2 separate regions of the Homo sapiens genome follow, and region 1 is linked to region 2. Evidence: fine-mapped expression QTL. A gene starts in region 2. The other region holds a variant in brackets. All regions are shown on one strand. Distances are from middle to middle. Region 1 overlaps ARHGAP35 (Rho GTPase activating protein 35). Region 2 holds the start of ARHGAP35 (Rho GTPase activating protein 35).

What was found. PIP is the estimated chance that this variant, and not a neighbour inherited with it, causes the effect.
Region 1: its variant is the best candidate, but not a certain one, in a credible set for the expression of ARHGAP35 in whole blood (INTERVAL, PIP 0.80).

What each region holds. Positions count from the first base shown.
Region 1 is chr19:46,962,258-46,967,624 of GRCh38, forward strand. The region is part of intron 3 of ARHGAP35 (Rho GTPase activating protein 35); the gene reads left to right. Among named protein-coding and RNA genes, the nearest start is that of NPAS1, 55 kb to the right of the region's middle. RefSeq lists an enhancer at 655-1,854. The variant TTTTG/T (reference allele first, on the strand shown) is at 3,209.
Region 2 is chr19:46,858,179-46,863,545 of GRCh38, forward strand. ARHGAP35 (Rho GTPase activating protein 35) reads left to right here and starts at 2,819. Exons shown (of 7, transcript NM_004491.5): 1 at 2,819-3,031. It overlaps LOC124904791 (translation initiation factor IF-2-like), which reads right to left. Exons shown (of 4, transcript XM_047439803.1): 2 at 4,944-5,030; 3 at 2,879-3,142; 4 at 1,411-2,718. The coding sequence ends at 2,047. RefSeq lists a silencer at 2,588-3,127.

The sequences.
Region 1 (5,367 bases), 100 kb after region 2:
TTGAAGAGATTCCCCACTGTCTTGCCATATGAGCAGCTCAGGGTTTCTGAGAGCCTGTGCAAGAAGCCAGAGCCCTGGCCTGCCTTGCCAAGACTGGCTAGTGATGTTGTTGGCACTTGGAAAGGCCGTGAATGTGTGACAATGTCTCTCACCTTGAGGCCCCTGAAGAATAATGGAGAGTCTCAGAGCCAGCTCATGTGTCAAATGGAATTTCTGGTTTTATAGCTTATGCTCTTGTGTTTAGGGCAGAAATTCTAGCACAAGGCCTCACACCCAGGCAGTAGACAAGGGTGGGGAAGTTTCTGATGGAGAAAAGTTCGGTTCTCTGTTACTCTGGCCAACCTCTCATTCTTTTGTTTTTGTTTTTGAAATGGAGTCTCGCTTTGTCGCCCAGGCTGGAGTGCAGTGGTGCGATCTTGGCTCATTGCAACCTCCACCTCCCAGGTTCCAGTGATTCTCCTGCCTCCTGCCTCAGCCTCCCACGTAGATGGGATTACAGGCATGCACCACCACACCCAGCTAATTTTTGTATTTTTAGTAGAGATGAGGTTTTACCATGTTGGCCAGGCTGGTCTCGAACTCCTGACCTCAGGTGATCCGCCCGCACTTGGCCAAAGTGCTGGGATCGCAGGCATGAGCCACTGCGCCCGGCCTCAACCTCTCATTCTTAGTCCTTTTTCTCACTGCATCCTCATCCTTCCCGTTTTGCTGCTGCTTCCTACTCCTTTTCAGGCTAGCCTATTTCAGAAAATTTTATCTTTTTTAGTAAAATTATTTGCTCAGAATAAAAATAAAGCAGATTTCTGTTTCATTCTTCCTGGGCCTGCTTTGGGAGGGTGGTGAGTGGTGAACTCCAAGGAATTGTTTGCATGGTGTGCTACCCTGATGGGAGATTCTCAGCGTCCAGGATTCCTTTACTTTTCTGTGGGGGTTCTATCTGGAAACCTTATGTGACTCAGGGCATAGTATGATTTTGAGCACTTCCTGTGGTCAAAAACTGTTGTCTTTGATTGGAAATTATGCTGTGTTCTGAGTGCTTGCTGGCACGCACACACTGTTGACTGCTTGTTCTGGTAGCACATCTGCGTGGGGTGCCTTAAAAGTGGGCACTCTCTCAGCAGAAAATTCCCATGTGGGACCTCAGTTCAAGCCCCTCCTCACTTTCATCACTTTCTTCTCTTTTGCTTCCCTTCCTCTGTGCCTTCACTCCTCCACACTGGCCTCAGCAAATCCCATCTATTTTCCAAGCCCCATCTGAAAGCGTGCCTCTTCTCTGATGACCATCCTTGTTGGAGCTGACTTTGCCGTCCCTCCTGTGGACATCCATGCCAGTTGTCTGTGTCATCTGTTTAGCAGTCATCTGGTCCTAACTTTTAGCTTATCTTTTATTATATCTAAGTGTGATCTAACTTTTCACCTTTATCTTGTCTCCCTGTCACCTCGAAAGAGGACACGACAGTGCTGTTAATTTTTCTATCTCCCATGGGACTTAATCGGTGTCCTCCACGTAGTATGCTTTAATAATGGTTTATTGCTGTGATACTGCTTCACAAATGCCAGCAGATGCCATGCTGTATCATCAGAGATGAGATTATTTTATTTATTTATTTTTAATTTTTTTATTTTTTGAGATGGAATCTTGCTCTGTCACCCAGGCTGGAGTGCAGTGGCGCAATCTCGGCTCACTGCAATGTCCGCCTCCCAGGTTCAAGCAATTCTCCTGCCTCAGCCTCCCGAGTAGCTGGGATTACAGGTGAGTGCTACTACCCCCAGCTAATTTTTATATTTTTAGTAGAGACGGGGTTTCACCATGTTGGCCAAGCTGGTCTTGAACTCCTGACCTCAGGTGATCCACCCGCCTCAGCCTCCTGAAGTGCTGGGATTACAGGCATGAGCCACCGGACTCATTATTATATGAGTCATTATTATATGCCCAGACAAGATTATTATAAATTTAAATTTAAATTTGTAATTTATTTTGTGAACCTGAGCAGGTGACTTTTTTTTTTCTTTTCTTTTCTTTTTGAGACAGGATCTTGCTCTATCACCCAGGCTGGAGCGCTGCAGTGGCGTGATCATGGCTCACTGCAGCCTTGACTGCTTGGGCTCAAGTGATCCTCCCGAGTAGCTGGGACCACAGGCATGCACCACCAAGCTTGGCAACTTTTTAAAATATGTTTCGTAGAGATGGGGTCTCACCATGTTGCCCAAGCTGGTCTTGAACTCCTGAGCTCAAGTGATCCTCCCACATCAGCCTCCTAAAGTGGTGGGATTACAGGTGTGAGCCAGCATGCGCAGCCAGTGGCATCATTCTTTAAGTCTACTTTTACTCCATAAGCCAATCTCCCATTGAAAAACTGACAAAAATAATTCTCAACTTTCAACTGGTTTCAGCTGACCCTCTGAATGTGGGATAATATTTGCTTGATAGGGCAGTTTCAGTTCAGCAGAAGGGCTGGTGTGGCTCATTGGAGCTTATGGAAGGGGGTTCTACCAGGGTAATAAGGTCAATATGTGAATCCTTTGATAAAAAAGAAATGGGCACAAGCCAACATGGACCCAGAGAGAGAATAAAAGTCTTAAAAACTTGCAGAAATGAACAGTCCTGGTAGGTCTTTGGTAGCCTGTCCAAATACAGAGCATGGATCTAAAGTGATTTCTTTCCCTTCATATGTTTATTCAGTTATCATAGTACTACCTTTTGATAGCCTTCCCCTATATTTTGTGACAATTACTTTATCAAATATTCAGTTCTTAAAATTGAGTCTTTTTAGGCCAGGCGCGGTGGCTCACGCCTGTAATCCCAGCGCTTTGGGAGGCCGAGGCGGGCGGATCACCTGAGGTCAGGAGTTTGAGACCAGCCTGGCCAACATGGTGAAACCCCGTCTCTACTAAAAATACAAAAATTAGCCGGGCGTGGTGACAGGTGCCTGTAATCCCAGCTACTCAGGAGGCTGAAGCAGGAGAATCGCTGGAACCCAGGAGGCAGAGGTTGCAGTGAGCCGAGATTGCGCCATTGCACTCCAGCCTGGAGGACAAGAGCGAGACTTCATCTCAAAAAAAAAGAGTCTTTTCTAAGATTTCTTTTGTTTTACTGATTTTACTTTCTTGTTTTTATACCAAAATCATGTTTCCTAAATTTTTACTCTCAAAAGTGCTTTAATAGCTGGTAAAATTCAACTTTTTCTCTGGGTCTTTTTCTTGGGTT[TTTTG/T]TTTGTTTGTTTGTTTGTTTGTTTGTTTGTTTTGAGACAGGGTCTCACTTTGTCACCTAGGCTGGTGTGCCGTGGCACAGTCATGGCTCATTGCAGCCTCGATCTCCCAGGCTCAAGTAATCCTCCCACCTCAGCCTCCCAAGTAGCTGGAACTTCAGGTGCACACCACCATGCTCAGCTAATTCTTGTATTTTTTGTAGAGATGGGGTTTCGCCATGTTGCCCAGGCTGATCTCCAACTCCTGCGCTCAAGTGACTCTCCTGCCTCAGCCTCCCAAAGTGCTGGGATTACAGGCGTGAACTGCTGCACTCGGCCTGGATTAATCTTTTTCAACTCCATGTTTCATTCCCATAATTGCTGTCTTTGCCAGAATATTCTTTAGCCTCACAATGTTTAGTTTTTACAATCCTAAAAGAATAATTGAACACCTGTTATGTGTCAGTTCCATTAGATGCTGGAGGCTAAAATATGAATAAGATAGTTCATATTGCCCCCTAGAAGGACTCTTAGTCTTCTCTGGTCAAAACCAAGTCAATAAAGGAAGTATTAGTTGGAAACCCTCAGTCTCCCCAGCCTCAATACCTAGCTTCACTTGTACATCCAGCAGCCCCTGGGGTCTACTTTGCAACCTTCCAGTTTGCCATATGTGATATTTTCTATTGGATCTTTTAAAGATATTTTTGGTATTTTTTTCTTTCTTTGCAAAATATTTATACGATTTTTGGTATTATTTTATTTAGTGCATTTTAACCATTCCATTGAGATTTTTATTTTATTTATATACAAAATGCAATTGAGGCCAGGCGCAGTGGCTCATGCCTGTAATCCCAACACTTTGGGAAGCTGAAGCAGGAGGATTGCTTGAACCCAGGAATTCAAGACCAGCCCCAGCAACATATCGAGACTCTGTCTCTACAAAAAATTAGAAAATTAATCAGGTGTGCTGGTGCATACCTGTAGTCCTGGCTGATTGGGAGACTGAGGCAGGAGAATCACTTGAGCGTGGGAGGTTGAAGCCATGGTGAGCCATGGTTGCACCACTGTACTCCAGCCTGAGTAACAAAGCAAGACCCTGTCCCCCACCCCCAAAAAATGCAATTGAACATCTTTGTAATGTATGGTCCTTCATTTCAAAGTCATGACACCTCTCTGCTTTTTTTCCTCTTCTCTTTTTTCTTGTGTAGTCATTACAGTTGTTTGTCTTACTTTCTAGGGTTGATGGGATGGAGTGAGTGTAATAAGTTAGTCTATAATAATATTTCTGGCCTATCAAGTACAAGGCATTTTTGAAGCCAAGAAGATCCTGAGGAAGCCTGAGGCCAGCCCCCATTGGAGATGACTACACACATCAAAGAGAAAATTAATATCTCTCCACAGTCAGTTTGCCCAGTGCCCATGAGGCTGCAGGGGTTAGTGCTGCAGAAGTCAGGGAGCTTGCTTGCTTGGAGTCTGGGATGGAGGCTTGTCCTTAAAGATACACTGGATTCTCTAACAGGATGGGAGGAATAGTCTAGGTGTGGAAAGTCAACTGAATGAGAGTCAGGTGTAGAGGTGAGAGGCCGTGCTGACCACGTAGCCATATTGCCCTAAAATCCTTTGAACGTCAGCCTCCAGCAATTGGACTTGGCCTGGGCTTTTCAGATTTTTTTTTTTTTTCTCAGATCCCTAGAATTGTAAGGGAGTCCTTCTGCATGGGGACGGGAAAGGTCAGGCCACCAGGACTCTGGATCCTTCAGCCTTAAGGTTCAGTTTAAGATTTCATTTGGAAGAAGGATTTTCTCACTCCTGAGAAAGCTTGTCAGCCCTCACCGTTACCATTTGCGGGAAGGTAGGGTTTGAAGGTTTTCATCCCAGAGAATCTGCTGACCTGAGTCAACAGCATGTCCTCCATGGGGAGGGGGTCTCTCCCTTGTTACCTTCCCACACCAGTCAACCTCATCAGTCAGTCCCATTGTTTTTACCACCTAAGCGTGTTTTCAGCCTGGCCCCTGCCCCTGCGTTTAGTCTCTCACCCTCTTCTTGGTTTACTGTGGTAGCCTCTTTGTAATTGACCTTCCTGTTTCTGGTCTCATGTCCTTTCAGTCCCTTATGCACACTGCTGCAAATATCTTTCCAAAATAAATGGGATCACTTCATCTTCACCTGCTTAAAACTC
Region 2 (5,367 bases):
ACAAATAAAAAGAATGTTGACTAGCCTGGCCAACATAGTGAAACCCCGTCTCTATTAAAAATACAAAAATTTGCCAGGTGTGGTGGCACACACCTGTAGTCCCAGCTACTCGGGAGGCTGAGGCAGAAAAATCGCTTGAACCTGGGAGGTGGAGGTTGCAGTGAGCCGAGACCTCGCCATTGCACTCCAACTTGGATGCCAGAGTGAGACTCCATCTCAAAAAACAAACAAACAAACAAACAAAAAAGACTGTTGCGGCCAGGCTCAGTGGCTCACACCTGTAATCCCAGCACTTTGGGAGGCTGAGGTGGGTGGATGGCTTGAGGCCAGGACTTCGGGACCAGCCTGGCCCGAACAGGTGAAACCCTGTCCCTACTAAAAATACAAAAATTAGCCAGATGTGGCGCCTGTAGTCCCAGCTACTCAGGAGGCTGAGGCAGAAGAATCACTTGAACCCGGGAGGTGGAGGTTGCAGTGAGCCGAGATCACACCACTGCACTCCAGCCTGGGTGACAGAACAAGACTCTGTCTTGAGAAAACAACAAAAACAAAAATTAGCGGGGCGCACGCTGGTAATCCCAGACTCTGCCTCAAAATAAAAAATAAAAATAAAAAAAGACTGTTGCTTGGCACGAAGTACTCATTTTTATTATTAAAGAACGAGGGATCAGGCCAAATCTGGGAGACTACCCTGAGAAGGTGACTTCAAGCTGAGAGTTGAAGGGTAAATCAGAGCTGATGGGCTCCCAAGGGGTTTGGGGGATCCAGAGTGAGCCCAAGCGTCCTTGTTCTCCAGATGCTGCCAGCTCACAAATTTAAGATTGAAAAGACTCGGAACACTGCATAGGCGTTGTAAAGACATTAATTTGAAATACAGGTATCAGGAATTCACTGCCCCCCACCTTGTCTTTCCTGTGTCTCCTCAAGTAATCTCAAAAGTCCCTTACACATCACGGTTTGTAATGACAGTCCACGCACTCGATTTGGCAGCCCCGCAGTGCTTAAAGAAAAGTTGTTGTTGTTTCAAGCCACTAACATCTAAAAATCAGACTGAATGCATTAAAAGTGCCTTTTTTTTTTTTTTTTTGAGACGGAGTTTCCCTCTGCTGCCCAGGCTGGAGTCCAGTGCTATCTCTGCTCACTGCAACCTCCGCTTCCCGAGTTCAAGCGATTCTCCTGCCTCAGCCTCCCGAGTAGCTGGGATTACAGGCGCCCGTCACGACGCCCACCTCATTTTTGTATTTTTAGTAGAGACGGGGTTTCATGTTGGCCAGGCTGGTCTCGAACTCCTGACCGCAAGTGATCCGCCCGCCTCGGCCTCCCAAAGTGCTGGGATTACAGGCATGAGCCACCGCGCCTGGCCCTAAAAGTGCTACATTAAAAAAAAAAAAAAAGTCAATGGAAACATCCTTTAATATAAAAATCTTTATTAATGGAATAAACAAGCCCCTGTAATTTTATTTATCAACGCTTACAGAGCGCTTACTATGTATGCAATGCATGATTTCAAGAGCTTTGCAAAATATAATCTATTTAATTTTCACAGCAGCCCTACGAGAGAGGTACGATTATTATCCCATTTTATAGATGAAGAGACTGATGGCAGAAATGCCAAATGTAATAGGAAACAGCCTTTCTTCATGCATTCCACAAATATTGGCTCGGCGCCCGGGAAGCTCATCTTCCACGATCTGTACTTCCGGAGGAGTCCCAGAGGAACACCTCCTCAGTTCAGAGGAGTCAAGGGTTACAGCGGTGCCCTCTCCCATCACTACTCTTTTCCCTTCAGGCGCCCTAATTGACATTCGATTTGTAGCCATTTGCACAATGCTAAGTGACAGGCTTGGGCTGCACACAGGACCAGGCCGTCTTCCCTCTCCTGGGGATCAGTCGTTCACAGAACCAAAAACAAGTTGCATGGACGCGCGCGTTGGCTGCAGATTTTCTTCACAGCCAGGAGAAAGAGCACGCGCTCTCCAGCCCCGCCTCTTCTTCCGGGACGACGAATTGCGGGGCTCGGATTGGGCTGAGGCGGGCCACGCCTCCTCATATCCTCCAATCAACTCCCTCTCTGGTGCGCTCCCTCCTTCTCAGCCCCGCCCCACCGCCCCACGTTACGTCGCTCCTTCTGGCCTCCTCCGTTATCCCGGCGGCTGCGGCTCGCGCGGCAAACCCACCTCCCATTGCTTCCCATTGGCTGGTCAGGTCCCGCGCGAGCGGGATCGCGCCCTTCGCCCCCCACCCCCAAAACCGGGCCATGCCTCTCTCCTTCGGCTTTCTCCAGGAGCCAGCGCGAGGCAGTAGATCGGCTGCTTGAGACGCGCGCGCAGCTCCTGCGGACCACTCCCTCCGCCCTGCGCCAGCAGCTGCGCCGGCTGGCAGCCCCCCGCGCACGCGCGCTCGCCCATCCCGCTCCCTCTGCTCGTTTGCAAGTCGCCTCGCGCTCAGTCGCGACGGCGGCCGCCGCAATAGCGGCATTTTCGGGGGCGCACGCGCACTGCACCGTCCGCGGCCGTTCCTAACCTCAGGCAGCGGCTGTGGCAGTAAGCCCCTCGGGTGCGCACGCGCTCTGACCTCTTCCCACTGCCTCGCTGGTTGTCCCTTCGCGGCGCGCGCCCAGGGGCCGTTATACCCCTGCAACGGTCCACGCGCCGCGCACGCGCAGTAGCGAGGGGGCGCGCGCGCGGGAGCGGCCGTCGCAGGAAGGAGGTGCCGCCGCTGCCGCCATTGCGAGGGAGGGAGGGAGGGAGGGAGTGAGCGAGGCTGGTCCGCCCTCCCCCTGGTTGCCGCCCCTCCCCCCTTCCCCTCCCCGCCCCCCGCCCCGAGGGAGAGCCGCGGCGCGGCGGCAGGAGGAGGTGGAGGAGGCGGAGGAGGGAACCCGCGAGGGAGGGTCCGCCCGGCCCCCCGCCGCCGGAGCCGCCGCCGCCGCCTCAGCCGCCGCTGGACTAGGAGCAGGGGAACATGGCGCCGGGGCCCCCGTCGTTGCTGCCGGGATTTTGGAGGCCGGGGCCGCGCTGAGGGCGCCCAGCTGGTGAGTGCGCGAGCTCACGGGCCCCGGGCGGCGAGGCCGGGCGCCGCCCCGCTGCGGGGTCCAGGGGGAGGCGGGGACGGCGGGGCCCGGAGCCCGCGAACAATGGAGGAGCTGGAGGGGGAGGGGAGGAGCGGCCCCCCCCCCAGCCCCCCGGGCCCCGCCGTCCCCGTCGCTTCGCGCGTCGGCCCGGCCCGTGGGGCCCTCCTGCCCTTTGGACCTGCCCCTGCCCGCCCCAGCCCTGCTGTCCCCGCCGCCGCCCCCATCCCCGACCCGTTGGGATCTCGGTGTCTGCCTCGGAGCCTACCCGACTTCAGCCAACCGGTTCCCAATTCTGCGCCCCCCTTCCCCCTTCCACCCCTCCATAATGCCCTTCGCTCCTCCCGGGCTCTGCAGTGCTCCTGGGACCCATCTTCTCCTCATTGACCATTCTGCATCTCTTAATTGTGGCTCCCACTTTTGAGATCCGTGACGCTTCTCCCTCTTCTCGATTCTGCTCTCACCACCCTTCAGATCTGTCCTCGGCCCCTTCTTTGACCTACCTTCTGTGCTATTATTCCTGTCTCAGAATCTGTTGCACCCTGGGAGCTGTCCCTTTAGGACCTGCGGTTCCAACCCTTTGGAGATCCATCTGAGACCCCTGTTCGGCCAGGCACTGCTGCCCCAGGTCTTCCCCTTGGACTGAATCCCGTTCCCTCGTGGGCCCTACTACCCGCATTTCTTGTCTGCCCTCTCGCAGAGCCTGCTGCACCCCGGGATGCCCCTCGGCTGGCTTTCTGACCCTTCCGTGCCCCAGCTCATTCCCCTGATCCCCTCGGACTTGGCTGCACCGTGCTTGCCTGTTCCCCTTCTCAGCTCTTGTTCCCGTTTACCATTCAGACCCTTTCCTCTCTTCCAGACCTTTCTGCCTCTCAGCTCTGCCCCTTGCCCGACCTCAGATCTTGCTGCGCTCCCCTCACCTGCTTGCTTCTGACTCTGCCTTCCCGGGAAGCAGCCTCCTCCCCCTTCTCTGACTCTGCAGGTCTCCCATTTCTGCTATTCACTTAAATGATGTATCCCTAACTCAGACTGCCTTCAGTTTCAGCCCGTGTTCTCTTGGAGGTTTCCTCTCTTCCCCACCTCCTTTTTGGCACTCCTCTGAGCTACTGCATTCATTTGCTTCTCCTTTCTTTGGCCTGTCTCTCCTTCAGTTCTCTGCCTGAAAACTGCTTCCTGTCCCCTCTTTGCTCCAATTCCTCTCCTCCCCGTTTTAGCCCTTAGACATGCCCTTTAACCTCACTATACCTCTGATACCTCCCGGGCTGGTCACCCATCCCCTTCCTGTTCTGCATCTCACAGACCTGCCCCTAGATCCATTTTGTACCTACACTTTCTTCTCGTTTTTTTCAATTCTGCTCCATCCTCTTTATTTAGTGTTTCCCTCCCCAGCTCGGCTCCTTCGGAGCTGTCCACTTGCCCGCATATTTTTAGACCGGTTTTTAACTTCTGTATTGCCGTCCTTTCTTGGAGCGGTCCTTTAACACTGGGGTTCTTGTCACTGTGTCCCCTCTCTGTTCCCTCCCGAGTCTTTTAAGTTTTCCACATGACAGTCTCTTCCCCCCACCATTTTGATTCAGCCCTCACCCTTCACTCTGCTTTATTTGCCCACCCTCCACTGTTCTGCCTCTTGTCTTCTTTTGGAGTTCTCACTCCAATTGTGACATTACGATGTCTTCTTAATCATTCTTTCCTATGTATTCCCCCCCACCTTCCTCTTGGAGCTGCCTCAGTGCTGTGATAGATTATCACTCCCCTTTGATATCCCTCTCCCAATTCTGTTCCTCTTGGACTTGTTTCCTTCCTCACCTTTTTTTTTTTTTTCCTTCCCCTTGTATCCTGCCAGGCTCCTTCTCTTCCCATTTAGTTCCTATCAGACCTGCTCCTCGCAGCTCACCACCCGTGGCCCACCCATTCCCCATTGAGCACTTCCCCTTTCAGGCATATCTTTCTTTCCATCCCTCTGCTGCAGAGGCAAAGGGGCTGGATTGGGCCTTAGGCTCTCCAGGCTCTGAGACTGCAGATTCTCTCTCTGCGCCCTAACCCTGAGGGTTCTCTCCCCAGGGATCCTGAGAGATCTGGGTAAATAGGTGGGGGTTGGTTGATTGTTACTACTCTCTGGAGTCTGGGAGTGTCTCCCCCATTTCCCCCACTTCCACTAGGTTAGTAGTGTGGGGGGAGGTAGATCTTTTTCCATTGCCCCATTTTCTTTCCTCTGCTGTTTGCTCTCTCCCTTCCTATCTCTGGGCTTTGCAGCTTTGTGTCCTTTGGAAAAGGGGATTGCAGCTGCTCGCAGATCTTTA